7 separate regions of the Homo sapiens genome follow, and all the other regions are linked to region 1. Evidence: fine-mapped expression QTL. A gene starts in region 1. Each other region holds a variant in brackets. All regions are shown on one strand. Distances are from middle to middle. Region 1 holds the start of ELAPOR1 (endosome-lysosome associated apoptosis and autophagy regulator 1). Region 2 overlaps ELAPOR1 (endosome-lysosome associated apoptosis and autophagy regulator 1). Region 3 overlaps SARS1 (seryl-tRNA synthetase 1). Region 4 overlaps ELAPOR1 (endosome-lysosome associated apoptosis and autophagy regulator 1). Region 5 overlaps SORT1 (sortilin 1). Region 6 overlaps ELAPOR1 (endosome-lysosome associated apoptosis and autophagy regulator 1). Region 7 holds the start of PSRC1 (proline and serine rich coiled-coil 1).

Evidence for each region. PIP is the estimated chance that this variant, and not a neighbour inherited with it, causes the effect.
Region 2: its variant is fine-mapped to the expression of ELAPOR1 in whole blood (TOPMed, PIP above 0.99).
Region 3: its variant is fine-mapped to the expression of ELAPOR1 in whole blood (INTERVAL, PIP above 0.99).
Region 4: its variant is fine-mapped to the expression of ELAPOR1 in whole blood (TOPMed, PIP above 0.99).
Region 5: its variant is fine-mapped to the expression of ELAPOR1 in whole blood (INTERVAL, PIP above 0.99).
Region 6: its variant is fine-mapped to the expression of ELAPOR1 in whole blood (INTERVAL, PIP 0.97).
Region 7: its variant is fine-mapped to the expression of ELAPOR1 in whole blood (INTERVAL, PIP above 0.99).

The regions. Positions count from the first base shown.
Region 1 is chr1:109,112,018-109,116,093 of GRCh38, reverse strand. ELAPOR1 (endosome-lysosome associated apoptosis and autophagy regulator 1) reads right to left here and starts at 1,979. Exons shown (of 22, transcript NM_020775.5): 1 at 1,758-1,979. The coding sequence starts at 1,910. It overlaps CFAP276 (cilia and flagella associated protein 276), which reads left to right and starts at 3,347. Exons shown (of 5, transcript NM_001245025.3): 1 at 3,347-3,495. The coding sequence starts at 3,415. RefSeq lists a silencer at 2,158-2,227.
Region 2 is chr1:109,160,189-109,164,264 of GRCh38, reverse strand. ELAPOR1 (endosome-lysosome associated apoptosis and autophagy regulator 1) reads right to left here. Exons shown (of 22, transcript NM_020775.5): 2 at 2,251-2,371. Among named protein-coding and RNA genes, the nearest start is that of ELAPOR1, 48 kb to the right of the region's middle. The variant T/A (reference allele first, on the strand shown) is at 1,908.
Region 3 is chr1:109,223,747-109,227,746 of GRCh38, reverse strand. SARS1 (seryl-tRNA synthetase 1) reads right to left here. Exons shown (of 11, transcript NM_006513.4): 2 at 3,699-3,769. Among named protein-coding and RNA genes, the nearest start is that of SARS1, 12 kb to the right of the region's middle. RefSeq lists enhancers at 1,004-1,688, 1,689-2,373. The variant CA/A (reference allele first, on the strand shown) is at 1,582.
Region 4 is chr1:109,182,724-109,186,799 of GRCh38, reverse strand. ELAPOR1 (endosome-lysosome associated apoptosis and autophagy regulator 1) reads right to left here. Exons shown (of 22, transcript NM_020775.5): 8 at 1,667-1,755. Among named protein-coding and RNA genes, the nearest start is that of SARS1, 29 kb to the left of the region's middle. The variant C/T (reference allele first, on the strand shown) is at 1,893.
Region 5 is chr1:109,391,747-109,395,822 of GRCh38, reverse strand. The region is part of intron 1 of SORT1 (sortilin 1); the gene reads left to right. Among named protein-coding and RNA genes, the nearest start is that of SORT1, 4.1 kb to the left of the region's middle. The variant T/C (reference allele first, on the strand shown) is at 2,015.
Region 6 is chr1:109,194,335-109,198,410 of GRCh38, reverse strand. It overlaps ELAPOR1 (endosome-lysosome associated apoptosis and autophagy regulator 1), which reads right to left. Exons shown (of 22, transcript NM_020775.5): 15 at 3,817-3,990; 16 at 757-937; 17 at 336-432. Among named protein-coding and RNA genes, the nearest start is that of SARS1, 18 kb to the left of the region's middle. RefSeq lists an enhancer at 1-1,074. The variant A/G (reference allele first, on the strand shown) is at 2,444.
Region 7 is chr1:109,279,933-109,284,008 of GRCh38, reverse strand. It overlaps PSRC1 (proline and serine rich coiled-coil 1), which reads left to right and starts at 864. Exons shown (of 8, transcript NM_001032291.3): 1 at 864-946; 2 at 1,273-1,329; 3 at 1,434-1,491; 4 at 1,949-2,390; 5 at 2,758-2,872; 6 at 2,963-3,232; 7 at 3,520-3,613; 8 at 3,853-4,076. The coding sequence starts at 1,311. The coding sequence ends at 3,856. RefSeq lists enhancers at 353-402, 1-495. The variant G/A (reference allele first, on the strand shown) is at 1,951.

The DNA of each region.
Region 1 (4,076 bases):
AGAAGTGCTTAATTTCTGAAATGTCTCATATTTTCCATTGTTGACAAAGATCTCAACAAGAATTGGTAGTTAAACTGTATGATTCTTACCTTCCACTCAGGAAACTCCCTTGTTTGATTCTTAGGCAAGTGGGCTTTCTTGGTCTCATTATTTTGGTTGGTTAGACCACAGGCCATCAAGGCCAGTGAGCCAGTCACTGATAAGATCATACTGTTCCCTGCGATCTCTAAAACAGGTCATAATGCGGCTAGGTGGAAATGTAGATGGCCCAGGGCAGGTTGTCATTGGAGCTAATAAAGGTTATCAAAAGTCCCACTCACTGGGGTCACTTATGTCATATTCATGAATCTTCAAAATCAAGTATCTTTATTCACACAAAAATCCTCCCCCCCACACCTGACTTCTTTATGACCTGCTGTGCTGTAGACACAGAACATCTTTATAAGAATTTATCTCCATATGGGATGGAGTTGTTGCCAATCAGTTCACACTAACAATTTATAAAAAATATTCTGGGCTGGGCGCAGTGGCTCATTCTTATAATCCCAGCACTTTGGGAGGCCGAGGTGGGAAGTCGCTTGAGCCCAGGAGTTAGAGACTGGCCGGGGCAGTATATCGAAACCTCATTTCTATTTTAAAACATATATTTTTTAAAGTAAAGAAAATACATCTATATATATATTCTAACCTCTCAAAACCTTAGTCAAGCTTGATATTTGGGATTAAATTTACAGAGCTAGATGCTTGACTTTTTATGAAGTCCTTCACATTTCACAGAAATAACAGAACTTTTATTTTGCCTTCCCCAACGTAGTTCTTGTAAATATCTTATTGTTGCCTCTGCCATATGGTTTCTAAAAAAGTTGCTCAGAGCACAACCAAATATTGTTATTTCAATAACATAGAAATGACTTAGTTTTGTTGCTGCTAGTGCCCTTTTATGTTCCTCCAAGATGACTTTTCAAAAGCTATTTTTGGTTATAAGAGATTGACTACCTATTGTCTGAATTCTGCTTCCAACATATTGGAAATACCTTGAAAAAGACTTTGACATATGTTAAGTCAGAGAAGGAGACTAGAGGTTGGCAGAACACAAGATATTGAAGAACTCAAAATCTGCAAAAAGGTGAGTCGTGTACTGTCAGGTACACTAAACATAGTACGCTGCGGGGAGGCCAAGCTATAAGGAGGAGACACATTTTACAGTCTGCACTAACCGATGTTTAATAAACAAGGAACTAGAGAGCTGGAATCCTATCATCCCTCTCGCACATCTCCCACCTTCACACTCCGTTTTGTGTAGCCATGATAAAACCACTTCGCTCTGATACTTTTTTCTGGCCTTCCTAACTCCTTTCCTCTCCCACTACTCTTCTTTCCTCTTCCTATTTTGCTTCTCTGTGCATAATCTTTTCTTGTCAACCACTTTTAAGGTGAGTTCATCCTAACTGGAAAATAACTCGTCTGCCTCCCTCATTCTGAGTTCAGGTACCCAGGTAGCTCCCCTTCTTGGGGCTGGGACCTTTCTCGCTGAGCTCAGCATCCCAATCTGTGAGGATGATCTATCCGTGAGTCCTCCAATGTGCTGGCCTCCTCATGACGCCAGACTGGCTCCTCTTCCCTCCCCCCACGCCTCATCCCCAAAGAAATCTAAACTCCGTGGCGTCTGAAACTCTCTGCGCCTGGGTCCCCAAGGTCTCCGCCTGGATCCAAGACTTTTGTGACCAAAGCGGGATCGGGTAGGGGGGCGGCAGTACCTCTTTGCAGGCATGAAGCTCCGGTCCCGTTCCCTGGGTCACCTGGAAGGCGGTCCCAGCCCAGAGCAGCAGCCGCCACAGCCGGGGTATGCGCCTCTCAGTTCTTCCCCTGACTCTGGCGGAGAGATGGTGGCTGTGCCCAGGCTCAGCCATAGCGTTGTCCTGAGTGAGCGGCAGTAGCGGCTCAGGTGCTGCGGCTGCTGCTTCTGCTGGCAGAAGGCGGAAAAAAAGGGGAGGGAGGTACACAGGCGGAGGATGCAAGAGGCCAGGCTCGCTTCAGTCACCTCCCTGCGGCTACGCCAACACCGCCCATCCTTCCTCCTCCCTCTGTCCTCTCCTCCTACCCACGTCGCCTTGACAACCGCCTCCTCTCTGGCTCCGCGCGGGTGGGGCAGGGACCACGCGCGCCTCTGCAGCTCACCTGCGGGTCGCCATGGCAGCCGCCGCCGCTGGTGCGCGCGGCGTGGGCGCGGGAGAGCGCGCGCCCGGGGTGCGCAACCGGCCCAACAGGCAGGCCCGGGGCTCGTGTGAAGAACACAGTGGAAGCATCCTCCAAGCCAGCCAACAAATTTCCGTTTTCTACTGCCCTTTCGGGCCAGGGGTTATTTTATGAGCATCTCCGATGTTGCACACGTGGCGTGTGAACCGAGAGAAAGAAGATGGAGAGATCACCCTCCAGACGTCGTCGCCTGGAAGAGGCCCCAGTACGTGTTCCCTCCTACGAAGGCCACTCCTGGAGATCTTACATCCCGCCAAATCCATCCGTGCTTTTACAACCGGCTAGAAGAGAAGCCCTGACACTGTAGTTGATCCGAGTTTAAGCGAGGAGTTTGCCTTAGCCGCAATTTCCCAAGCGCCGCACGTGGGCCTCTCTCTCTCTCTCTCTCTCTCTCTCTCTCTCTCTCTCTCTCTCTCTCTCTTTCTCTCTCTCTCTCTCTCTCTCTGAGACAGGGTCTCACTCTCTCGCCCACACTGGAGTGCAGTGGCGCGATCTCGGCTAACTGCAACCTCCGCCTTCCGGGTTCAAGAGATTCTCCTGGATTAGCCTCCCGAGTAGCTGGGACTACGGGCGCGTGCCACCAAGCCCAGCTAATTTTTTTCCTACTTTTTGTAGAGACGGGGTTTCGCCATGTTGCCCAGACTGGTCTCGAACTCTTGGGCTTAAGCGATCCGCCCGCCTCCGCTTCCCAAAGTGCTGAGATTACAGGCGTGAACCACCGCGCCCGGCCCTCTTTGGTCTCTTGACATCCTCATTCTCTCATGGCTTTGAAAGCCTTTTGTTAGGTGCGAGGGAGAAGGAAATTTCTGGGTCATCTTTCAGGACTTCTTTCCTCAACTGAAGTCTTTTGCAGAAGTCCTGATGGTGAGCAGCCAGCACTTTTCCGCCGAGGCTCAGGAGTGCAATTCCAAGTCTCGGGCCCGCTCAGCGGAACGTTCCCTCTGCAGTCCCCGGAGCTTCCTCCCCAGGGGCCTCCCGTGGTCAGCCGCCAGGTGGCGCCCTCCTCTGAGGGAATTCCTCTGTCATAGATGGCTGGGCAGTTGCCTGGCAACCGAAACCAGCGCTCCAAACAATTGGGACCCGGGATCTTATGCCAGTGAGGCTGTGCTGCGGCTGAGCGGGCCTCCCATCCCTCTTAAAAGAGTTAGGCATTTAGCCATGCCTCCCACCCGGGACCCTTTCCAGCAGCCTACATTAGATAACGATGATTCCTACTTAGGAGAACTGCGGGCTTCCAAGGTACTGTGGTTTCTTGCGCAGATTCCCAGTAGGGTCGCCGGTAGTCTTCTTTCTGTCTGTGTGATGAGCAGAGATGGTAACATAAAGGACTCTGGTGAAGACACTCAGTCGGGTACCAGGGAAGTCTGTTTTCTGCCTGCCTCCCTATCTCCATATTCAAGTCGGCTAACGTTTCAGAGGCGTTTTTGAGCAGAGGAAAGTAGAGTTCTAGTCTAGAGGAACAAGGGGCTCTGGCAGCTCAAATCAATTGTGAGTATAAGTTATGGCAGTGCCCAGGTTCCTTCAAGCTACCCATTTCCCTATTTGGAAGACTGTTCTCTGAAGAGAAATGAGATATGGAGTGGGAGAGAATCCTCTGAAAGCCACCAGAGGTCATGCTTTACACATCTGTGTTCACACTGTCTCTGTCTTCTGGTTAACACCACAATATGTTTGTTATGTGTGTGTTTAGCATGATGGTGGACACTGATTTCGGAACTTAGATGATCTTTTTTCTGGTAGAAGTGATTGGGATATATGAAGTGGTGCACAATAAGATGAATTAAGTGGTGATTGTGGTCTAATAACAATATTGAGAGCCC
Region 2 (4,076 bases), 48 kb before region 1:
AAGAGGTGAAGCCATAGAGACAGAAAGTAGATTTGTGGTTGCCAGGGGCTGTGGGGAGGGGCCTGGGGAGAGATTGCTAATAATATGAGGTTTCTTTTTAGGATGATTAAAATGTGAAATGAGAGTGATGATGGTTGCTGTGAATATTCTAAAAACCACTGAATTTTATCCTTAAAGGAATGAATTTCATGGCATATAAATTATATACCAATAAAGCTGTTATAAAAAAAATAGATCTAGGGCCACGGATGCTCTGCCTTGCTGTGGGACTTTGGGCTTGTTCCTGGCACTCGTTTCCTTTGGAGAGGTGCCCTGACCATTCTGAGAGCTCTCTGGTGAAGAAGATGCCAAGGTCTCTTGTGCTGACCCCTCTGAATGACACATGGCCCTTCAGCCTTGAATTTCTCCCTTGAGCCTCTGGCCTCTGCCTTTCTGGTTGTACTGCCACCATGCTAGGTGGAATTCTCATGACCTGTTAACTCAATCATTGCAATATCCTCCTAACTAGTTCCCTATTCTTATTTTTGCTCATTCTGTGGTCAGAGGTACCTTTCTAAAACAGATGTGATCAGGCACAGTGGCTCATACCTGTAAACCCAACACTTTGAGAGACCAAGGCAGGAGGATCACTTGAGCCCAGGAGTTTGAGGCCAACCTGGGCAACACAGTGAGACCCTGTCACTACCAAAAAAAAAAATGTTTAAATTAGCTGGGAGTGGTCGCGTGTGCCTGTAATCCTAGCTACTCAAAAGGCTGAGGTGGGAAAATTACTTGAGCCCAGGAGGTCGAGGCTACAGAGCTATGATTGCACCTCTGTACTTCAGCCTAGGAAACAGAGTGAGACCTTGTCTTTAAAAAAATAAAAAGTAAAACACGTATGTACTATTATTCTCCTTATTTTAAAAATAAACAGGCACTCCCTTTTGGTTCTAGAATTATGCTCTTGGCCTGGCATTCAAAGTTTTCCACGATTTCCCTGCAGCCTAACTTCCCAGCTTGACCTCCCACTACAAATCTTTTTTCACCTCAACTCCATCCATCACCTTCTCTGTGTTGCCTCTACCCTGGACCACAAGCTCTTCCTCAAATGTGTCACTCTTCATCCACGTCTAAACTTTTGCTCAAGTGGCCCTCCCAGCTATGCCTGATCCCTAAATATTCGTAACTCTCATTCTTTCTCATATCATATATGTCTGCCACCCACTAGGCTCTGCGCTCCTCTGGGGATGGCTGGCTCAGTGACTGGCACAGACTGGGAGCTTCATGAATGTTTCTGAAACAATGAGTGAATGAATGAATGTCTGCACTTTCCACCACCCTAAGCTTCTGAAAGCAGAGAGTGTGCCTTATTTGTCTTTGCAGTTCACACTGCATGTGCACATCATGGTGCTAACACATAGTGGGACTCACTGAAGTCAGCAGAGTTCAATGAAGATGGCTCATTTGTTTCCACTAGTCACACCTCAGTTCTGCTCAGGTCTCAGCAATATCCAGTCATTAATTTAACAAGTATTTATTTGCTCACTTACTCAACCAGGCACTGTACTAAGCTGATTTTAGAATTTAAATATCTTCAAACTCCTTTCCAACTCTTCAGATAATTCCTTAAATCTAGTGCCTGGTTTTTCTTGTTATTCCCTTTGCATTCCTAAAAGAATAATGCAGGGGAAACAGCTGCCAATTGTAGAAAAGTTGTGACTGCAGAGTCACAGAGGCGGGTGCTGGGGCTGCGGCAAGCCACTGCCTTTCCTATTGCACAATCAGACCCACAGTCAAGAAGATTCTTGTCTCCTGAAGTGATGCCTGGAGCATTTTAAAGGACGTCTCTGCAGAAACTTAGCCTCTCTGACTTCCTTTTTAAGAATGAAAGCAAATCTCAATCTTGCCTAATGACTGATTGTGGCTGG[T/A]GAGTGAGTGTAGATTGGAGAGACATACAAGGCAAAAATGAAAATGTATGCAAACAGAAAAGAATATCTGAGTGCACACAGCTGGCATTGCTTATGCTGTATCCACTGATGGGATTTAAATTCCTTTAAAAAATGAAAGCAAATTCAGATATCCAGTTTGCATTCATGAAATACTTCTGCACCAAATCTCATAAGGGTCTGGGATGTGGGGACTAATTGGGGAAAAGATCTGATTCCTTAATGCAGCTGCTCTGCCAGGAAGGGCCCAGATTGGATGGCAGGAGACTTGGGGGAGAGACCAAAGCTGAGTGACAGGGAGGCCCTGAGCAGGATAGCTGCTTACAGCACTCGGTGCCCTTGATGGGGTCAGGCAGGCTGGTGCACAGGCCCGGGGTATGCGGCACGGCGACCCTCCACCTGGAACCCGTGCTGTCACACGCCGTGTACTCATAGTGGTACTCAGACTGCAGGGGAGAGAACAGTGGGCGAAATGTGCATTAGCAGTGATCAAACATTAACAGCTTCCCACCCACTTCCCAGCACCATGGCTACTGATGCTCATCCTCTCAGAAATGGGCCCTGGGACCCCGGGCAGGGAGCTGATGATTATGAACCGAGTACAAGAACTACAATGATTTGGATCATTCCCTTCCACCCAGCCATGGTCTAGTCCCTAGAAATCATTTTTGTGTGTGACTCTCTTTGTTGTTATGTTTAAGTAGTGTCCTTATGGAGCAGAGGAACGTGGGAAAGGTAACTAAGGAACAGGCTAGAAATAGGTGGAATTTTTCTTATTCCAAAGTGTAGAATTTATGAACGAGGACATTCTAAATGGAAGGATGTTCTAAATGGAAGCCTTAGTCCACAAAAAATTTACAAAGGCTCCTCACAGAAGTGGTATGTATTTCTATTTCCCTGTGTTTCTTTTTTTTTTTTTTTTTTTTTTTTGAGACGGAGTCTCGCTCTGTCGCCCAGGCTGGAGTGCAGTGGGATGATCTTGGCTCACCGTAACCTCCGCCTCCTGGGTTCAAGCGATTCTCCTGCCTCAGCCTCCCGAGTAGCTGGGACTACAGGCGAGTGCCACCACGCCAGGCTAATTTTTGTATTTTTAGTAGAGACGGGGTTTCACCATGTTAGCCATGCTGGTCTCAAACTCCTGACTTTGTGATCCACCTGCCTTGGCCTCCCAAAATGCTGGGATTACAGGCATGAGCCACCACGCCTGGCCCTATTTCCCTGTGTTTCTTATGCTCCTTTCCACTCAGAAAGACTATGAATTCCCAATTGCATTTTATGAAAATATATTTGGCCGAGGCAGGTGATGTGCTCTCACTTGAGCCTGTTCATCCCTAATTTGTCTGTGCAATGGGAAACTCATAGTTTAATTGTTTTACCTGAGCTAAAAATAAATGGAATAACAACAAAACAACCAAATCAAGCATTAAGTAAAACAACAACAACAAACAGTTCCACTCAGAACAAAGAAAACACAATTGATGTGCCAAATGCCCTTAAGCGTTTCTTCCTCCTTTAAATCTGGTAATAAACAACAGACCATGGAATTAGTGATGATTTTGGCTCTGACAAGTATTTTACAATCTACACTTACCTAAAACTATATTCAAGCCCAGAGGTATTTTGTATTACTGTATGCATAAGAAAAATAGAATTAATGTCCCCCTTTAACCCACGTGATAGCCTGATTGCATAACATGTATAACGTCAAGGAGCTAAGACAAAAAATACAAGTTTTGAAGTTTGCTAATCTAATAATGCGTCAGGATCAAAAGGAATAAGCTTTATTTTTGGGGATAGGTAAACACACTGCATTTCATCTATTCCAAGATGCACGCTTTTTCCACATCTAACATCTATGAAATCAAGACGTGTCTTAAAATTGACACAGTAAGGAAGAATTGTGTTATGTTTTAAGGGATAGAGAGCTTTTTCTTTCTTGATGACACATTAAAAAAATGGTGTCTTAGAAGCAGTGGCATTTCAGACTTGTTGCAATATGGTAAAGATGTAGTTTCTTTTCTTTTTTTTTTTTTTAGACAGTCTCTTGCTCTGTCACCCAGGCTGGAGTGCGGTGGCGTGATGATGGCTCACTGTAATCTTGACTTCCTGGGCTCAAGTGATCCTCCCACCTCAGCTTCCCAAGTAGCTGAG
Region 3 (4,000 bases), 110 kb before region 1:
GTATTTTTAATAGAGATAGGGTTTCACTCTGTTGGATAGGGTGATCTCAAACTCCTGGCCTTAAGTGATCCCCCACCTTGGCCTCCCAAAGTGCTGGGATTATAGGCGTGAGCCACTGCACCCGGCCCCGAGTGTAGATTCTTATCTACCTGCTAACAACAATCCCAGCATTGAGGCTAAGGGTGAAAGATGGATGGAATGATGAAATATCAGACAGCCAAGGAAAACAAACAAACAAAAAGTCACAGGATCTGGAACTCAGTTTAGAACAATCAATGTAATTTGACAAAATGGCAGGGGTGTAACCAGGGTTGGATTTCGTTCTCTCTAGTTTCTCTTCTCATCCTTCCGTATGATAATTCTGCTAAATCATCATTTGTAATCCTTGCACAAAACCAGGTGAATTTAAAAAGATCACTTAAAGAGTTAAATTCTTCTTAAATTAAAAAGAGTTGGCAGGGCACGGTGGCTCATGCCTGTAATCCCAGCACTTTGGGAGGCTGAGGTGGGTGGATCACGAGGTCAGGAGTTCAAGATCAGCCTGACCAAGATGGTGAAACCCCGTCTCTACTAAAAATACAAAAATTAGGCAGGCGCGGTAGCAGACACCTGTAATCCCAACTACTCGGGAGGCTGAAGCAGGAGACTTGCTTGAACTTGGGGGCAGAGGTTGCAGTGAGCTGAGATCACACCACTGCACTCCAGCCTGGGTGACAGAGTAAGACTCTGTCTCAAAAAAAAAAAAAAAAAAGAGTTAAAGAAAGTTAGTCAAAGGTCATTATAATAAGATACATGAGACTTCAACAAAACTTGCATAAGAATATTTAGCATCCGCTTTGTGAGTATAAATAAAACAAAGTATAGCCAGGTACAGTGGCTTGCAACTGTAATCCCAGCTACATGGTAGGCTGAGGTGGGCAGATCACTTTAGCCCAGGAGTTCAAGACCAGCCTGGGCAGCAGAGTGAGACCCCATATCTAAATATAAATAAATAAATAAATAAATAAATATATATATATGTGTGTGTGTGTGTGTGTGTGTGTGTGTGTATATATATATATATATATATTTTTTTTTTTTTTTAAATTAGCCAGGCATAGTGGAGTACACCTGTAGTCTCAGCTACTTGGGAGGCTGAGGCGGGGGGACTGCTTGAGCCCAGGTATTAGAGGCTGTGGTGAGCTATGCTTGTGCCACTGCACTCCAGCCTGGGTGACTTTTTAAAAAATTAGCCAGGCACAGTGACATGTGTCTATAGTCCTAGTTACTTGAGAGGCTGAGGTGGGAGGACTGCTTGAGCCAAGGAGTTGGAGGCTGCAGTGAGCTATGATCACGCCACTGCGCTCTAGCCTGGGCAACAAAGCAAGACACTGTGTCAAAAAAAAAAAAAGAAAGAACAAAAGGACTAAATCTCCTAAATGTAAAGCATGGAAATCCTTTAGGTTCATTACACATTCTCATACAATCAAAATTCTAACCATAACTCCACTCACACCCTTCAGTGACTCAGAGCAAAATCATCTTAAAAAGTTGGAAAAATCTGGCCAGGTGCAGTAGCAACACAGGGAGACTCCATCTCAA[CA/A]AAAAAAAAAAAAAAAAAAATTAGCCGAGTGTGGTGGCATGCTACTAGGGAGGCTGAGGCAGGAGGGCTGCTTGAGCCCAGGAGGTTGAGGCTGCAGTGAGCCATGATTGTGCCACTGCGCTCCAGCCTGGGCAATAAAATGAGGCTTTGTCTCAGAAAAAAAGAAAAAAAGTTGGAAAAATCTGAAACTATCAGAATGAGTCTTGATAAGAACAGACTACAGAGGTAGGGAAAAAATGGACTAAATCTCAAGATTTTTGCAATGGCATCATAGGCAGGGTGATATGTTTGCAAGATAGTTACCAGGCTCCCTTGCTATTTGATAATCCCTCAGGGCAGCAAATTCAAGTTCTGAGCTCAAGGTTTGACTCTGCAACTAAGTTAGAATATGATTTTAAGCAAGCTCTTTAATTTCCTAAGCCGATTCCCTTACCCATTAAATAGGGCTGACAAATGTACTATCTGCACTCCAGCTCTGCAGTAAGGATCAAAACCAAAATAAGATGTCTGTGAAAGTATCTGAATGCTTTCGAGTGCTCTACAAATTAAAGCACTATCATTACCATTTCAATGGCAGTGGGAGTGAACACTCCCTGCATGGCTAGCAACAAAATCAGATCTAAGAATGTTATTGTGAATGACAACACTCACAATCCCATCTTCTTGCTTCAAAAAATACCCAGCTGGCACTGACTGTACATAGGTCCCAAAGAACACCCAGGGAGGAGTATGCATGGGAATTAACATAATTATGGGGCCTCTAGTATGCGAATGACTAAGTCCCACAGAAAGAAACTGGATGATTATCAATATCACTTTCCACAGCTAAAAGTGTTACACGCTGAAAGTGTAACAAAATATTGTCAAAGAGAAAGATGCCGACTGCCATGAAGTTAAGTGTAAGGTGCTAGAATCCCGAGGTCATCTTTTTATGCTCTTTACTGGTGCAGTTCCAAAGTTCTATAATTTTTTGTTGTTGTTGTTTAGTTTTGAGGTTTACAATGTAAAAGTTATCTAGATTGTAAAGTGCATTTAATTAATTAATTTATTTATTTTGGAGACAGGGTTTCACTGGAAACCCAGGCTGGATGGAGCTCAGTAGCGCAATCTTGGCTCACTGCAACTTTTGACTCCTGGCCTCAAGTGATCCTCCCACCTCAGCCTCCTGAGTAGCTGGAACTACAGGCACAGGCCGCCACGTCTGGCTAATTTTTTTGTTTCATTTTATTTTTGTAGAGATGGGGTTTCACCATGTTGTGCAGACTAGTCTTGAACTCCTGAGCTCAAGCAATTTGCCCACTTTGGCTCCCAAAGTGCTGGGATTATAGGCGTGAGCTACTGTACCCAGCTATAATATGTAATGTAATATGATTAAGGGGCTAAACAGGTATTTTTGAAGGAAGGTTAAAAACATGAACTATTCTGGATACCAAAGCAAAAGCTGAGCTGAAACATAGTATTTTTCAGGCATAGGAAGGATTTTTTTTTTGGATGAAGGCCAGTAACATTACTTGCCATTCATTATAACTCACAATTGCTGAACAACTACATGTTCTAGACACTGTGCCAAATTTTCTACATTTAAAAGAAATTTAGTTCTATCCATAACCATTGCTTGGCGTTTAAATTAAAAAAAAAAAGTTCTAACAATTCCATTCTGTAGGTGAGTGTTAGTATTGTCATTTTATAAATGAGAAAACTGAGGCTGAGGCATTAACTTGCCTAAAAGACACATAACGTAGCAAGATTTGAACTCTGAATCTGTAGTTTTCATTATGGAGCATAACTACGCTGAGACGACAAATCTGAAATCTGCCATAAAAAAGATGACTGGTGGAATTTATATTTCTAATATAAGAACAGAATAGACAACAAACAGCTAGACAACAAAGAATCTTACCTGAACACAGAAGATGGACTTGTGGTAAAGTATATGAAAATGCCTCCAAGTTCCCTGCCTCCCTATCTTTTTAAAATAATATTTTCCCCTTTGGTAAGAAATTGAACATCTTGTAGACTTAAACACTGAGTTAGAACTTCTGTGAACATTAGCTAAGAGCAAGATCAAATATCTCCGCTCAAGTTCTCATGGCTGTTTGTTATTCAGTTCTCTTACCTTCATTTTCTCTCCGATTGTCTTGCTGCATAGGTTCTTCAGCTTGTTCAAGTTGTCTGCCCGAAATCTACCTAGGAATAAAGAATCCAAGACTATACCAAAGAAATGCCCATAATTAAGATACTCCTTTCTCCTGATCTTGACTTCTTAGTACTGATTTCAGGTTAAGGCCCAAATGCCGGCAGAGCTGAAGGATCTGCCTCATGAAGTTATAAAATCTTACAGCTTTTTATTTTTATTTTTTGAGACAGCATCTTGCTCTTGTTGCCTAGGCTGGAGTGTAATGGTGCAATCTCGGCTCA
Region 4 (4,076 bases), 71 kb before region 1:
AGGGAGGGAAGAGAATGGGGCAGAAGGGAGGAAAGACAGCCACATTCAGTCACATGTTATGAACAGGAGGGAGAAGAGCAGCAGGATTAATTGTCTGCCTTTTATTAGTGAGTTGGCTGAGACCAAGAAAATGAAAATAAATGTTCACAAGGTCATACAGAATACCAGACACCACAGAACTGAGTCTAAGGTGCAACTGACAAGACACAGCCATTCTCTCTTGGCTGCTGGAGAAGGGGATGATGCCCCAAATACGTGGGGGAGGTGGTGTTGGTAAGAGATGACTGTGCAAAATATTCATTGTTAAGGACCAGACTTTAACCCATGCTTAGTTAGGAAAGGGAGAATTCAGTCAGCCGCCCAGCCAGCAAATGTTTATGCTCCCTAAGAGCCAAGCATCATGCTTAGTGCTGAGTGCAGAATGCCCAACTCCTAGTTCTATCCTCTTGAGAATCTCTAGCTTAGGGATACAGACAGCTCAGCCAGATCCTTCTCCGTGCACCTCAAGCCCTTCCCTGCTCACTTACACTGTTTCTCCACCCACCTGGCCCAGCTGCCGCCTCCTCTCCTGCTGTGTCTGCTGCCTGGAAAGCTCCACGGCTCCTCCCTCATCTCCTTCAGGTCTCTGCTCAAATGTCACCTCCTGAGAGGACATCCCTACCCTTCTAAAATAGTGGCACCACCCTCCTTCATTCTCTCTCTCCTAATCCTGGTTTTTTTTTTTCCTTCCTACCACTTACTACCATTTGCTATATTATATACCCATTTGTTGTCTATTATCTCTCTCTCCACTCCCTCCCCAACAAGAGTTAAGCTCCATAAGGGCTAGATGTTCCCTCAGTTTTGTTAAGTGATGCATGCCTAGCACCTAGCACCGTGCCTGGCACAGAGTCGCTCCTCGATAAATATTTGTTGACTGTTGAACAAATGGCCTCCTCTGAGAGGCTTTCTCTGCTGCCCCCACCCCAAGTCCTGGTCGCTTCTCTTCTGGGCTCCCCCAGTTCCCTGCACATCCCTCTGGTTGCCTTGACTGGGCCCGTTTTTCTCCTCTCTCCAGCCTCTCATACAGGACTGTGAGCTCCCTGGGGGCAGGAGCTTGTTTCAGTCGTCTCTGACTCCCCAGCCTATAGTGCCAGGCCTGACATATCAGTCAGCCTCAAAAAATGCTTGTTGACTCAGTGACAGTGTAGACTAGGAGGGAAAGTTCTTTTCTGAAGCAGAAAGCCTGGAGGAAAGAGAAGCAGCAGAAACGGAACAAGTCAGACCATAGGCAGGAATCCATTCCCCGTGCCAGCCCACAAAACAGTGCCGAGGGGGTGAGCCTGAAGAGCCCCGGGAGGACATTGTGTACGGACAGGCAGGCTCTGCCGGAGTGGCTCGGCAAATAGAAGAAACCAAGCAAGAGAGAATGAAGTGGGTTTTTGAAACAGAACATATGTGCATAAACAGTGAAACAAACGCTGCAAAAACAGTTTCTGACCGGAAAATGAATGAAGAGGTCTCGTTTTGCCCCCCACCCCACCTAGCCCTAGGGTCACCTCAAAGGTCTGTGGGGTTTTAACTAGTGCCAATGTCATTGACTGCTGAAGTTCCAAATGGTGGCAAACCTCAGGGAGTGGGAGACAGTCCATCTGGGGCTAAGGGGCTCCAAGACTGTACTACCCACCTCTCCGTTGGCATCGCAGGCCGTGTGTGTGTAGAAATAATCTTTGTCTGTGCAAGCTGGGCGCACGTTACAGGAAGAAGATCCTTTCTCTAAATTGCCAAAGCAAGAAGAAATATTTGGAGTTACATAAGAAAGCTGAGCTCCTGGCCTCTTCATGGCCCTGTGACTCCCAAGTCCCTGGGTGCATTGCCACACAAATATTGCCGGAAGTAGAAAATCCTGCACA[C/T]TCACCCTTCCCCTTGTCTCAATAGTGTCATTTCCAGTTCCCCAACCCTGCTCAAGCTTCCCTTTGCACCTGTTCCAGGTGCTGATGAGAAACCACTGTTTGCCGCTTCCCGTCCCCCGCCCCATGGGGCAAGGGAGGGAGAAGTGGCCTGGCCAAAGGACCAGCAAGGAGGGTAGACGGAAACAGCTTCTTGCAGGTTAACCACTGCCAACCTAAGTTCCCTGAAACCTGGGGAGGTTCAGAGAGTTCACCATCTTCCAGGTGCCTTAGTGTCTTGACTCTGGGTGTGGTTTTTCTACTCCTGAAGTGTTGAAGTAAAACATGATTTTGCTTTCATACTCATTCCAAGCCTTTCTATGAATGTTCTAATATATGCCTAGAATGAAGGCCTTCCACCTTGGAAATTTCCTTTTCTTCATGCAATCATTCTACACAAACCAGGTTTGTAATTTCCTTGGACTCCACCTAACACATAAGGTTCTTCCCACTTGCCTCAACCCAAGCATCCCAACACTATCTTTATTATTATTATTATTGAGATGGAGTTTCACTCTTGTTGCCCAGGCTGGAGTGCAGTGGCACGATCTTGGCTCACTGCAACCTCCGCCTCCCAGGTTCAAGTGATTCTCCTGCCTCAGCTTCTTGAGTAGCTGGAATTACAGGCATGAGTCACCATGCCTGGCTAATTTTGTATTTTTAGTAGAGACGGAGTTTCTCCATGTTGGTCAGGCTGGTCTCGAACTCCTGACTTCAGGTGATCTGCCCTCCTCGGCCTCCCAAAGCGCTGGAATTACAGGGGTGAGCCACCGTGCCCGGCCTCTTTATTATTATTTTATTATTGTTATTTTTTAGAGACAGAGTCTTGTTCTGTTGCTGAGGCTGGACTGCAGTGGTACAATCTTAACTCACTGCAGCCTGGAACTCCTGGGCTCAAGCGATCCTCCCGCCTCCCGCACCAGCCCAACACTATCTTTAACTCTTGATTTATACCTAATGAAAAATGTTAACTGCTGGGCATGGTGGTTCATGCCTGTAATCCCAGCACTTTAGGATCTCTTGAGCCCAGGAGTTCAAGACCAGCCTGGGCAACATAGCAAACCCTGTCTCTACAAAAAATACAAAAATTAGCCGGGCGTGGTGGTGCAGGCCTATAGTCCCAGCTACTTGATGTTGAGGCAGGAGAATCACTTGAGTCCAGGAGGTTGAGGCTGCAGAGAGCCATGATCATGCCATTGCATTCTAGCCTGGGCAATGGAGAGAGACTCTGTTAGGAAGGAAGGAAGGAAGGAGGGAAGGATGGAAGGAAGGAAGGAAGGAAGGAAGGAAGGAAGGAAGGAAGGAAGGAAGGAAGGAAGGAAAAGAAAGAAAGAAGAAAAACGTGAACTATCAGTTTTCTTCTGCTCTCTGCATGTTCTCCTCCTTTCAATGTTAGCTCTGCTTTAACCCTGTGAACCTCTGGATAGTGAGAACTACTTCTATGAATTCATTTTTTAATTTTATTTTTTTCATTATTTCATCATAGGGTTTGTTTTCTTTTCTCTCTCTCTCTCTTTTTTTTGTTTTTTTTTTTTTTTTTTTTGGTAGAGACAGAGTCTCGCTATGTTGCCCAAGCTGGTCTTGAGCTCCTGGCTTCAGGCAATCCTCCCACCTCAGCCACCCACCCAAAGTGCTGGGATTACAGGCATGAGCCATTGTGCTTGACTCTCTCTTTAAAGCAGTGGGTTTAACTTTTTTTGATTTTAAAAACTCTTTTGAAAATTTGAAAAAAAGAGATGTTTCTCTCTACCTAGAAAAATATGCGTAATTCATACAAATAAAAACTTTTTGAAAGTTTTCTAGGGAATTTACTTCCTCCAGAATAAAAACAACTGCTTTATGAGGTGCACATTACAATACTGTTACTACTGCCACCACTACTTCGAATATGACTGCTGTGTCACCTGCAGATAAGCACTGAATAATGGTAAGAACTTCTCTCTCTTTATATTACCTGGCAAGCAGTATGGTGTAGTGGAATGAGATTTTTTTTTTTTTTTTTTTTGAGATGGAGTCTTGCTCTGTTGCCCAGGCTGGAGTGCAGTGGCACGATCTCGGCTCACTGCAAGCTCCGCCTCCCGGGTTCACGCCATTCTCCTGCCTCAGCCTTCCAAGTAGCTGGGACTACAGGCGCCCGCCACCATGCCT
Region 5 (4,076 bases), 280 kb before region 1:
GATTAGAGGCGTGAGCCACTATGCCCTGCCTGGATTTATTCCTTGAGTCAGAGTCTTCCTGGTTAGTTTGAATTGATGTGTCATTTGTAATATATTGATTCCAAAGAAAGAGGTTGAAAAAACTGGCTCAGGGGTTCTAAGGCCAAATCTGTGGAAGAGTAGACCTAAAACCACTCATTCTTTGAAGTCCACATGTAAAGAAATTTTCTTCTATTTCTTTCATTTAGCTGTTTGCAATAATTTTTTTTTAGTTTTTCTCTCCCAGTCTTTTTTTCAGTGACCTTATTTAAAATAGCTATTTTGGCTGGGCACGGTGGCTCATGCCTGTAATCTTATCAATGTGGGAGGCCAAGGCAGGTGGATCACTTGAGGTCAGAAGTTCAAGACTAGCCTGGCCAACATGGTGAAACCCTGTCTCTACTAAAAATACAAAAGTTAGCCAGACGCGGTGGCATGCGCCTGTAATTCCAGTTATTCTGGAGGCTGAGGCATGACGATCACTTGAACCCAGGAGGCAGAGGTTGCAGCGAGCCGAGATCGCACCGTTGTACTCCAGCCTGGGTGACAGAGTGAGACTCTATCTCAAAAAAAAAAAAAAAAAAAAAAAAAAAAAAGTTTTTGCGTTTGTTAGTCATCCGTGGTCTCTTCTTCAGAGATCTCATCCTTTCTGTATCTGGTTAAAAAAAAAAAAAGTGGAGCCTTTGTTTAATATCATTTACCTTAAAAATGGTTAAGTAGTACTTCTTAACCAAGAATTGTTATGTAGTAGCCTGTTCTTCTGTTTATTTATTTGGTTTTAGAAGTCATAAAAAATCCTGAACTGTATTGAAGAGATCTAGTATTTTTGGACCGTTTATAAAACAGTGTGAAATAAAAGCATCAGCATGACAGAACAACTTTTTATCAGAGATATTGTACTTTGTACAACTGGGGAAGGAAGGTACATGTAGAATCATTTTTCCTACATAACATGACAGGATTCGAGTCCCAAGAAAAAGCAAAAGTTCATGGTTCTCTTATTTCTTTTAACTTGGTCCTGTTTCATTTCAAGCCACATTAATTCACATCATCAATGTATGTGAATGCCCTCCAAATGCCTAGATCTGTGCTAGATGCTGGGGTGCCAAGATACAAAGAAAAGATCATTCAGACTGGAGAATGAAAAGCCTCAGAAGGTTATAGCAAACTACTAGACCTGTGTCTGTGGCTTATGAGGATATATTAGCATTTAACCTGTCTTCTCAAGAAAGCACGGTAAAGCTAAAGCATAATAGTGCGTTTATATTACGGTTTAAGGAGACCGGTGTCCTGATGACCACTCAGGCTTCTCTGTCCATGAAATCCAGCAGGTTTTTCTCTTTGCCCAAGCCTCCCTTTTTCTCTCTAAGGTTTTTTTTCTCATATCATTTCTTTTCAATCTATTAATTTAAAATATATTTAAAGTGCATTGGGTTTATTACACACAGCATATATTTTTTCACATAGAAGTCCTAATGATTAAGTGCTTTATTTTAGGAGTTGAGGCAGGAGAGGAAAACATTTTCCTTTCTAGTTACAGTATTACAAGTTAGCTATAATAGACTCATGGGAAAGTGGAAATAAAAAATACTGGCTATTACTAAAAAAACAAACAAAAGGGATGACAAGAAAACGAAGGAGAAAGATAAATAGTTATAACTTTCCAAAAATTATGCTCCCTAATTTTGTTCTAAGGGTTTGACTTACCATGGTAAGGTGGTATAGCACTGCCTTATCTGGACTGCCTGCATTTGAACCCTGGCCATGTCACTGTGTGATCCTGGGTGAGTTACTTAAGTTTTCTGTGTCTCAGTTCCTAATCTGTAAAGTGAAGATAAGAGCACTTAATTTGTAGGGTGGTTGTGAGAATTAAATGAGTGTGTGTTAAATTATATATACATAATATATACGTATATGTATATTATTGTATAAATATATATTTGTATTACATAATATATGCATATGTAATATTGTATTTGTAATGAGTTATAGTATG[T/C]ATTACAACATATCACATTGTGTTGTATAATCTATACATATGTAATAACTCATTAGAAGAATGTCTGGCACATAATTAGCACTCAGCAATTAGCTATCATTTATAAATGCTCTCTTCTTAGACTCAATAATCTTCCTTTTGCCTGGAACTCAAAACTGTTTTCATGCCACATTTTTAACTGATTCTTTCCTTCAGCTGCTTGGAGTATTCATGACATGTATAACCTTTGTACATGCGTGAAATTGAGCAGGCCTAGAAGACTTTATTGTTGGTTACTAAGTTGGATTGCTTCAAAACATTTCTGCTGTAAGCACCCCTTTGAGGGTAGGCATGAAACTGTCTTAAAGGAACAGATGAAATGCCTTGGCCAGAGTTGTGGTGGTGGCTGACATAATTTCCTTACTTCTCATTCCTGTGTACAGACCATTTGACAATTTCCTTAAAACTTTTTAAACTTATGATGAATAAAGCCAGGAACTCTTGCTTATTTTCTGTCCTCCCTCTGCTCCTGTCACTAACTACTTCTGTAAACATAACTTCCCAACTTCTACTCCAACTTTAAAGCATCTGGTTCCTTAAATAAACAGGCCCTGTAGAGAGGCCGTGTTGTATGGGGTGTCAGCTCTGGGAAGAATGCGTGTGTTTGTTTGCTGGCTCTGGCAGGGTTGAGTCCAAGCTGACAGGACTGAGTGTGCCTGTCAGAGGCTTCAGGGAGCTGCCGCTGAAGACCTCGGCCTGTTGTTGTGAATCGCCAGACCTTTGTAACACCCGGAAGTCTGAAGGTCAGTCCTTTAATGCCCCGGAACTTCCTAACTGCCTCATTTCTTCCAATACTTGGCCTCTCTTCATCCTACCTTCCCTAGCACCCCCAGCCGTCTAGCTTATTTAATAGTCTCTTGAGTTCTGTTTCTTCCATTCAGCTTTGGATCAAGGAGTAGGAACTCTGTAGGATCTCCTTCTTGGTCCTGGTTGAGCAGAGTGAGCGAAACCTTCATGAAGAGTCTTCTCTCATGCAATGTATAGTCAGACCTTTAGCCCCTAGAGGGATGTTAAAATGACTTATGCATTGGATATTTCAGTAAGAAGTATCAGCAGATTTGATGAAGTGTAATTTATCTGGGGAAAGGTTAGTCTTCATCTGAAGTTTGGTTGGGATGAGAGTAGAAAGCTAGCCAGGTATGACAGATGGCTCCAAGGGAATGCAGTGTTAACAATTAGGTAAGTTCTCTGCTGACTCAAATGTTTGGCTCTGTGCACAGTGATTTTTAATTAGAAATCTGAGTCTCATGTCTGCTTGTGGAAATAATTGGAAGAAGGCTTATGTTCTGTTCAATTTCTAATGGCTATTTTCTTTTTGTGATTATTAACAACAATAATAGGCTTTCTATCCTGCTGTTTTGATCAGATCTTTCATGTCAGGGTCACAGATACTATTAGCAGTTTCTTCTGCACTCTGCCAGTTTCCAGTCAACTCTCGTCAACAGGCATTGGGTTCTCAGTGGGTGACTGCAGAGTCTGCGTTCCCCAACTTTGTCCCAGTTGGCCTGTTACCCTTGTGTGACCATCACATGCTGGGCAGTGCTTAGCACCAAGTTGTAATGGTCAGGACGGGGGAGTAACGTTTGTTCTTCTCCCTCCTTCCTACCTAATCCTACCCCTCAATTTTTTTTACAGAAAGTGAACTATGTTTTGAGGCTGCAGAAATGAGGCTCAGATATTTTATATAATTAGGAGCTAATATTAAGGCAGACAAAGCCATCACATTTGACATGTAATTTAAAATACAGCTTTTCTAGAAACAACAAAACTGTGGCAATGGCTCTGACAATATTATGAACTAGATACTGCATTTGTAGATTTCTACAAGTTTCAGTTCCCTTTCTCTCCTTTTGTCATCAGTGTTTTTATTGCATCTTTTACTTCTATTTTTAAAAACTTGGTGAAAACTTGTTCTTCCCACTATGTGGTCTCAGTGATTTGTATGCAGGTGGATTTGAGGATTAATGGGGCTTGAAGAACAAGCTGATCAATTTCAGTCAGTTCTAGGCAGCTTTTTTGTTCT
Region 6 (4,076 bases), 82 kb before region 1:
AAGGGTGGGGATCAACAATATGTAGTCAAGGGGGAAATGCCCTGGTTTAGGAAAGTCATGGCTAGCATACACTGGAGCCTGCTTAGGCTGGAAGGGAAGTCCACTGCAGATCATCCAATATTTCTCCTTGCCTCTAGGGCAGATCTGCTCCAGTAATATCCAGGAAGCTGGGATCAGGAACTCCCAGCCCTTAGCTATCATGACTGGGCAGATCTGCTAGACCTCAGACATGTTCTGGCTTGATAAGCAGTAGGTGGCTAGAGAGGGAGGGATGCAGCAGAAATTATGGAGGAGTCCTAGGTTTCACTTGCATTAGCCTAGCCTCTCATCTTCACCTATAAAAGAAGATCACGTCCGGTATTCCCAAGGACTCCAGGTGGAAAAGTTCAGCTGGGGAGGTGATTCCATCCAGAGTCATATCTGTTGTCACCCCTGCCAAATTAGAGCTCCTAATTAGTTCTCACTAGTAGCATTAGCTGGCAACCACTTCAATTCTTCCAATACCTGTCAACATCCAACCTCACTTCATCTCATCACATCCCTGAGTGGCTTATGAAAGGGTGAAACAAGGGTTTGTCAGAGTCCCTGGGAGCACTTTGCACACAGAGTGGAATAGAAAACACAGGTCAAGAGGTTGGGCCCCTCATGTGGGGCCTTTTACCTCCCAGACTGGTAACCTCACACTCTCTTACACATACACACACACACACACACACACACACTCTCAAACAAGGCTGAGGCAGCGGAGTTACTCACCAATAAGTCGATCAGCAAGGCTGACAGGCTGTGAGGAAACCCCGGCCTTGTAGCCTGTCACCTCTGGGGGGATGATGACTGCCTGGCAGACGTAGGCTGTGATAGATTTGGAGAACCCTGACTCACCCTCAGGAATCCGGAGGTCAGTGACATTGTCGGTGCACACAGACATTTTCCTACCCTGGTTGGGGAGTGGGGAGGAAGAAGTAGGAAGAAGTGAGTGGTCACAGAGGAATTCCCAGAAGGGAATAGGGAAGGCTTTTTTACATCTAAATTTTCAGCGTTTCAATGGTATGTTGTAGGGGAATGATTCATCCCAGGTCTAATGACGAGACAGATTTGATTTTTTTGTTTTGTTTTGTCTTTTTGAGACAGAGTCTTGATCTATTGCCCGGGCTGGAGTGCAATGGTGCAATCATAGCTCACTAAAGCCTTGAACTCCTGGGCTCAAGTGATCCTCCTGCCTCAGCCTCCTAAGTAGCTGGAACCGCAGGTTAATTTTTTTTTTTTTTTTTCGTAAAGATAGGGCCTCTCTGTGTTGTTCAGGCTGGTCTTGAACTCCTGGGCTCAAGCAATCTTCCTGCCTCAGTCTCCCAGAGTGTTGGGATTACAGGGGTGAGCCACTGTGCCCAGTCAACATTTTCAATGTTATAAATTTTATTATAAATGGTGCTGGCTGGGTGCAGTGACTCACACCTGTAATCCCAGCACTTCGGAAGGCCGAGGCAGGTGGATCATGAGGTCAAGAGATTGAGACCATCCTGGCCAACGTGGTGAAACCCCGTCTTTACTAAAAACACAAAAATTAGCTGGACGTGCTGGCGCATGCCTGTAGTCCCAGCTACTCGGGAGGCTGAGGCAGGAGAATCGCTTCAACCTGGGAGGCGGAGGTTGCAGTGAGCAGAGATCGTGCCACTGCACTCTAGCCTGGCAAAAGAGTGAGACTCCACCTCAAAAAAAAAAAAAGTGCTAAATCTGGTGTCTCAGCCTTTTTTTTTTTTTCTAGATTGTAGGAAGTAGATGAGCTTGAAAACTGAAGAAAACCTTTACATTACAATAAAATAGAGTTCTTTTGTCTTTGAACTAAGGATCTATCGTGTGGCAGTACATCATAAGCATTTCTAAACAGGAAAGGAGTAGATAAAAAAATACACCATTTCCCCAAATTCCCCACCTTCATTGCTCTCCATAATTCACTGAATGACACTTTTGCTACATGAAGCCTGCTTTAATCAGTCTTATTTCCTAAGTGATCATGACCTGTTACTTCTGAGGCTTCATTTTAACTTCTTCGAAGACTTCTGAAAACAAGATAGAGACACCTATCTCTAATCTTTCATAGATTAGTTTATTTCTTGACATGTTCTCTTTATAAACACCCATCGACTTCTTTGCATGCTGCAGAAGATGGGTCAGAGCTCTATGATGTAAAGGCCTTACCACCAACAGAGTCAAAGACTAGATGCTCAAGATGCTCTTTATATTGTCACTTTTTTTTTTAGATGGAGTCTTGCTGTGTTGTCCAGGCTGGAGTGCAGTGGCATGATCTTGGCTCACTGCAATCTCCGCCCCCTGGGTTCAAGTAATTCTCCTGCCTCAGCCTCCCGAGTAGCTGGGATTACAGATGTGTGCCACCATGCCGGGCTAATTTTTGTATTTTTAGTAGAAACAGGGTTTCACCATGTTG[A/G]CCAGGCTGGTCTCGAACTCCAGACCTCAGGTGATCTGCCTGCCTTGGCCTCCAAATTGCTGGGATTACAGGCGTGAGCCACCATGCCCAGCCTCTTTTGTAACATTTGAAATGAACTTTCCAACTGCTAATTGTGGCTTGTTGCAATTTAATCAAGTGCAGTGGTGGGATTAACCTTTGCATTTCTGCCTTTGAATTTTGGATCTGAAATATTTGCAGCAGCATGAAATGGCTGATGGTGACAATCTTTCCTTATAAAGCATTTCATGTTACTTTCTTTCATACTGTCAGCAAAGAGACGTGTGGATGAACTAGAAACAGTTGATTTTATCCAGCCTCTAGAAAACAAGCGACAAATGCAGTGATTGCTGAAGACTGCTTTTTCAAGCAAGGGAAAAAAACCTTTCCTTCTGCATATTTCTGGGGTTTTTTTTGTTTGTTTTGTTTTTTGCTTTTTTGTTTTTTTTTTTTTTTGAGACGGAGTCTCACTCTGTCGCCCAGGCTGGAGTGTAGTGGCGTGATCTCCGCTCACTGCAAGCTCCGCCTGCCAGGTTTATGCCATTGTCCTGCCTCAGCCTCCTGAGTAGCTGGGACTACAGGTGCCCGCCACCACGCCCGGCTAATTTTTTTGTATTTTTAGTAGAGACAGGGTTTCACCGTGTTAGCCAGAATGGTCTCGATCTCCTGACCTCATGATCCACCCACCTAGGCCTCCCAAAGTGCTGGGTTTACAGGCGTGAGCCACCGCGCCTAGCCTTCCTCCTGCATATTTTTAAATAGACTCATTTTGAGGAAATAAAGGTCAGGTAAAAGAACACCTTATTTTATTTTATTTTATTGATTTTTTATTATTTTTCTGAGATGAAGTTTCACCTTTTTGCCCAGGCTGGAGTGCAATGGCGCAATCTCAGCTCACTGCAACCTCCACCTCTCAGGTTCAAGCGATTCTCCTGCCTCAGCCTCTCGAGTAGCTGGGATTACAGGCATGCACCACCACGCCCAGCTAATTTTTTTGTATTTTTAGTAGAGACGGGGTTTCTCCATATTGGTCAGGCTGGTCTCGAACTCCCCACCTCAGGTGATCCGCCCGTCTCGGCCTCCCAAAGTGCTGGGATTACAGGCGTGAGCCACCGCACCAGGCACCCGGCAAGAACACATTATTTTAAATATCTTTATTTTCTTAAGTGTTTATAATCCTGATTATTTAATTTTAGGGGAAAAAGTCCTCAGGGAGAATAATATGTAAAAACCTTTGAAGCTCCTCAACCCCCTGCTACCTGAAGGATTTCTGGTTTTCTCCTGTGTCTGTCTCTGGCTTCTGATCCATGGGCCTCCCCCATTCAATTTTCACCCTGTCAACTGGTATACCTTACCTGGTTTCCACAGAGACTGAGGGTAAAGTGATGGAAGTATTTCAGCCCTTTGGAAGTGAAGCTTGGCCCTCCAGCAAGAGTGACAGTGTTTGCCAAAGCGGAGAAGTTGTAGTTGAAAGTCCTGGTCGGAGTGTTGCGTGAGAAGGTGCAATCGTTGTAGCACAGAGAGTGGATCTGAGGGGGAGAGGGACGGGTCGGGCCAGCTGGTCAGGAAGGGCCTTGAGGGCCTGCAGCCAAGAGTAGCAGTTTTCTCCCCCGTC
Region 7 (4,076 bases), 170 kb before region 1:
AAGTTGGTTTAAGCATTTTACAAATACTGCTTTTAGTTCAGAGGGGGCTACTTACAAACACCCCCTCTAAATCCCCTAAGGGCACACGGTAGAAAACGCCTTCATAATTATCCTCGTAACACCGTAACTGCGAGGACCAACATCCTCCTTTCACAGATAAGCGAAGAGAGGTGAAAAGAGGGCAAATATACTCAAGGCAGCCGCCTCTAAACCGAAACTTGGGTTCTGAGGTCAGTTAAACTTGGGTTGCATTTGAACCTAAGCCTGCCTGCGTGAAAAGCCCGTTGCTTTCTTTGCACCTCAGCTGCCTCAGGTTCTTGAAGAGGCGATGGAGGATGTACTTCTAAGAGAACCTCAATATACCTACAATATAAGTGTTTAGGTGCTCCCTTAACTTGGAAAAAACCCACAACTGAGGAACCTCGGCCAATGCGGCGCCTGCATATTGAGTGCGCCCAAGAAAACGAATTTCCTCCCGTAGAGCGTCGGTTAGCGGCCACGTTAGGCAGCACAACCGTTCTGGAGACTGGGTGCTCGGCGGCCCAGCAGAGGGAGCGGGGCGGGGCGCGAGTTCCATACTCGTGGGTCCGTTTCTTCCCTCCTGGCCAGCCGCGCTCTGCTCCCATCTGCCTACGGGAAAGAGAGTCTCCGCGCACGCGAGCACGCGCACTCGCAGCCTCAACCCTCGGCTCCGCCACCGGGATGCAGTCTTCTGGGAACGGTTCTCCCCCAGCCCCCACCGGCTGACTTCCGGCCGGCAGCTCCTCAGCCCCTCCCCCTGAGGATTCACCAATCACGGTGCGCGTGTGGCTTGAGTAGGTGGGGCCTGAGAGATTCGAAAGGAGCCCCGCCCCCTCGGAGCTGATTCCCGGGACTAGGTTGCGGGAGAAAGCCTGTTGCGTGGAAGATAAGGCGGCGCGGGAAGTGGACACAGGGTGGGCTGGAGGTGTGCTTCGCGTGTGATGCCAGGGGAGTGGAAAGGTGGCTTGGGGAGTGCAGAACCCTGAGGATAGTGGCGGGGAGGAAGATGGGGCGTGCAGGCCGCCCCCAGTGAGGAGAGGCCAGGATGCAGGGCGGCTCCAGGGCAATCTGGGCAGTTGGGGGAGCCCTCCGTATCGTTCCCGGAGGTAGCAGGAGTAGCTGTGCGGGAGGTGCCACTCCTGGGCGCTTGCTTTGCCTCCAGCATGACCCCCGACCCTGGCTTGCACCCTGAATCTAGCTGCGAGCCTTGGGCAGAATGGATACCTGAGGAAAGGTATGGTTTCTCTCCAGCTCAGATCTAACTGGACTCTCGCTCCTGCTGGCTGGACATGGAGGATTTGGAGGAAGGTAAGGAAAGGAGGGAGGGAAGAATGAAAGGGAGGAGTGAGACCCAGCGATGGAGAGCTGCATCAGGGACCCATGACTGGCTTTCATTCTTCTTTCCCCTTCAGATGTAAGGTTTATTGTGGATGAGACCTTGGACTTTGGGGGGCTGTCACCATCTGACAGGTACCAGCCTCTTTATCCCACTTATTTTCCTCTAACAGTACCTCTTTGTCTCGAATCCCTTACTGCTGAATTATTGGCTTGGGTTGGTAACTTAGCAAGGTTTGGCGCACTTGGGGCTGCTGGGCGGCTGGCTGACTCGGGCCTCTATGACACTATTGGTAGCGGGGAGAGAAGGGAGAAGCTGGAGTTAGATTTCAGGGTGTTAAGAAGAAGGATAAGTGGATTTGCTGCATCTCCATCCTGGCATCATTTCTGATGTCCGTAAATGCTAAAGGCCTATTAGGCCCCATAGAACCAGGTATCTCATCGCCCAGAGGCCACATCTCACAGCCAGCATGGGCATCGGGGCCTAGGGTCATGTCCCTGGCTCTGTTGTGGGGCTTTTATGCAGTCTCCCTTGCATAATCTCCTGTTCCCTTTTGCATGGGCATGATGCCTGGTTTGTTTCCTGTCTCAGCC[G/A]TGAGGAGGAAGACATAACAGTGTTGGTGACTCCAGAGAAACCACTTCGACGGGGCCTCTCCCACCGAAGTGACCCAAATGCAGTGGCACCTGCCCCCCAGGGTGTGAGGCTCAGCCTAGGCCCCCTCAGTCCAGAGAAGCTGGAGGAGATCCTCGATGAGGCCAACCGGCTGGCCGCTCAGCTGGAGCAGTGTGCCCTGCAGGATCGGGAGAGCGCAGGCGAGGGCCTGGGGCCTCGCCGAGTGAAGCCCAGTCCTCGGCGGGAGACCTTTGTGCTGAAGGATAGTCCTGTCCGAGACCTGCTGCCCACTGTGAACTCTTTGACGCGGAGCACCCCCTCCCCAAGCAGCCTGACGCCTCGACTCCGGAGTAATGATAGGAAGGGGTCAGTCAGGGCTCTCCGGGCTACATCTGGAAAGAGGCCCTCCAACATGAAGAGGGTGAGTTGAGAGAGTTGAGTTGGAGGTGTGCCCCAGACATGGTGTGTGCCATGATGCAGGGAGTGGTTTCCTTATTGGTAAAACAGGGATAGCATTTCTACATCTAGAATTGTTGGAATTAAATGAGAACCATGAAAAAAGAGAACCAAAACTCTTACCACAGTGTCTGAGTATATGTCTATGATAAACTCAATAAATGGTATTGGCAATAGTGATGGTGATGGTGATGTGGTGATGTTAGCAGCTAACTTCTACCCTTCCTTACTGGGATGTAGACAACTCTCCACCTCTATTTCTTAATTCCTTAAGCCACAGAACAGATATTTTTTCCACTCTAGTCTTTTTTCTCTCTCTCTTTGTGTTTCAGGAGTCACCCACTTGCAATCTGTTCCCTGCATCCAAAAGCCCAGCATCTTCTCCTCTTACCCGATCGACTCCCCCAGTCCGGGGGAGAGCCGGGCCCAGTGGGAGAGCAGCAGCCAGTGAGGAGACCAGAGCAGCCAAGTTGCGGGTGAGTGGGAGTGGGGAGTTTGTGGGATTGACCCTGAAATTTCTCCACCCCTCTCCACCAGGCCCACCCACCCCCATCAGATCCGTCCTGGCCCCACAGCCTTCTACCAGCAACTCTCAACGCCTGCCCCGGCCGCAGGGAGCAGCTGCTAAATCTTCCAGTCAACTGCCCATTCCCTCGGCCATCCCCAGGCCTGCCAGCCGAATGCCACTCACCAGCCGGAGTGTGCCACCTGGCAGAGGTGCCCTACCTCCGGATTCTCTGTCAACTCGAAAAGGGCTTCCAAGACCAAGCACTGCAGGACACAGAGTGCGGGAAAGTGGACACAAGGGTAAGAGGTCAGGAGGAAGAATGCCCGCCCTTGCCCAGCGTGTCCTCACCCTCCCAGAGCTGTCAACAGTGACCACTTTTGCCATCCTTATTGCAATTCAATTGGAAGATGGGGAGACTGAGTTACAGAGAGGATATGGGGCTGGACAGAGTCTGAGTCTTAGTTTTCAAATACCTCATGGTCAGGGGGAGAGTACTAATCCCACACTCGCTCCCTTCATCCAGTATTTCTTTTCGAGGTCAGTTAAACTTGCTGCTAACTCATTTCTTTTGTTAACCCCCATGAAGTTCCTGTTTCCCAGCGACTAAATCTTCCTGTCATGGGTGCCACTCGCAGCAATCTGCAGCCCCCCAGGAAAGTGGCAGTCCCAGGACCTACCAGGTCAGTCTGGTCCTCCCTTGCCCATCCTGTCTCCCTACCCCGCCATCATCTGGGATTCCAAGCTGTTATGCACATCAGCCCTGAATTTTGTATGGAAAGATGGAGAGAGGAGGGGAGCCTGGGGCAGGGGAAGGGGGATCCCATTTCTTCCCACCCTGAGGAGCTTGAATTCTGCTGGGTGACAAATGGGCTTGAGGAAGAAGGGCATTTTAAAGCAGTTATTCCTTCTATTTCTTTAGGTAAAGAGATCAGGACAGCAAGCAAGACTTCAGTAGCAAACCACTACAGTCAGTACCTGGACTCGCCTCTACCCAGCAGACCCTGACTCCAGCAGATTCTGGCCCAGGGACAGGAGGAAGAGATGCCACCAGGGCTGGTCTCCCAGGAGTAGAGACCATGGGAAATGGGGTGGATTAGGATTGAGCTGGAGAAGACTTAAACTCTCTGGGTTGAAAGAAGATTA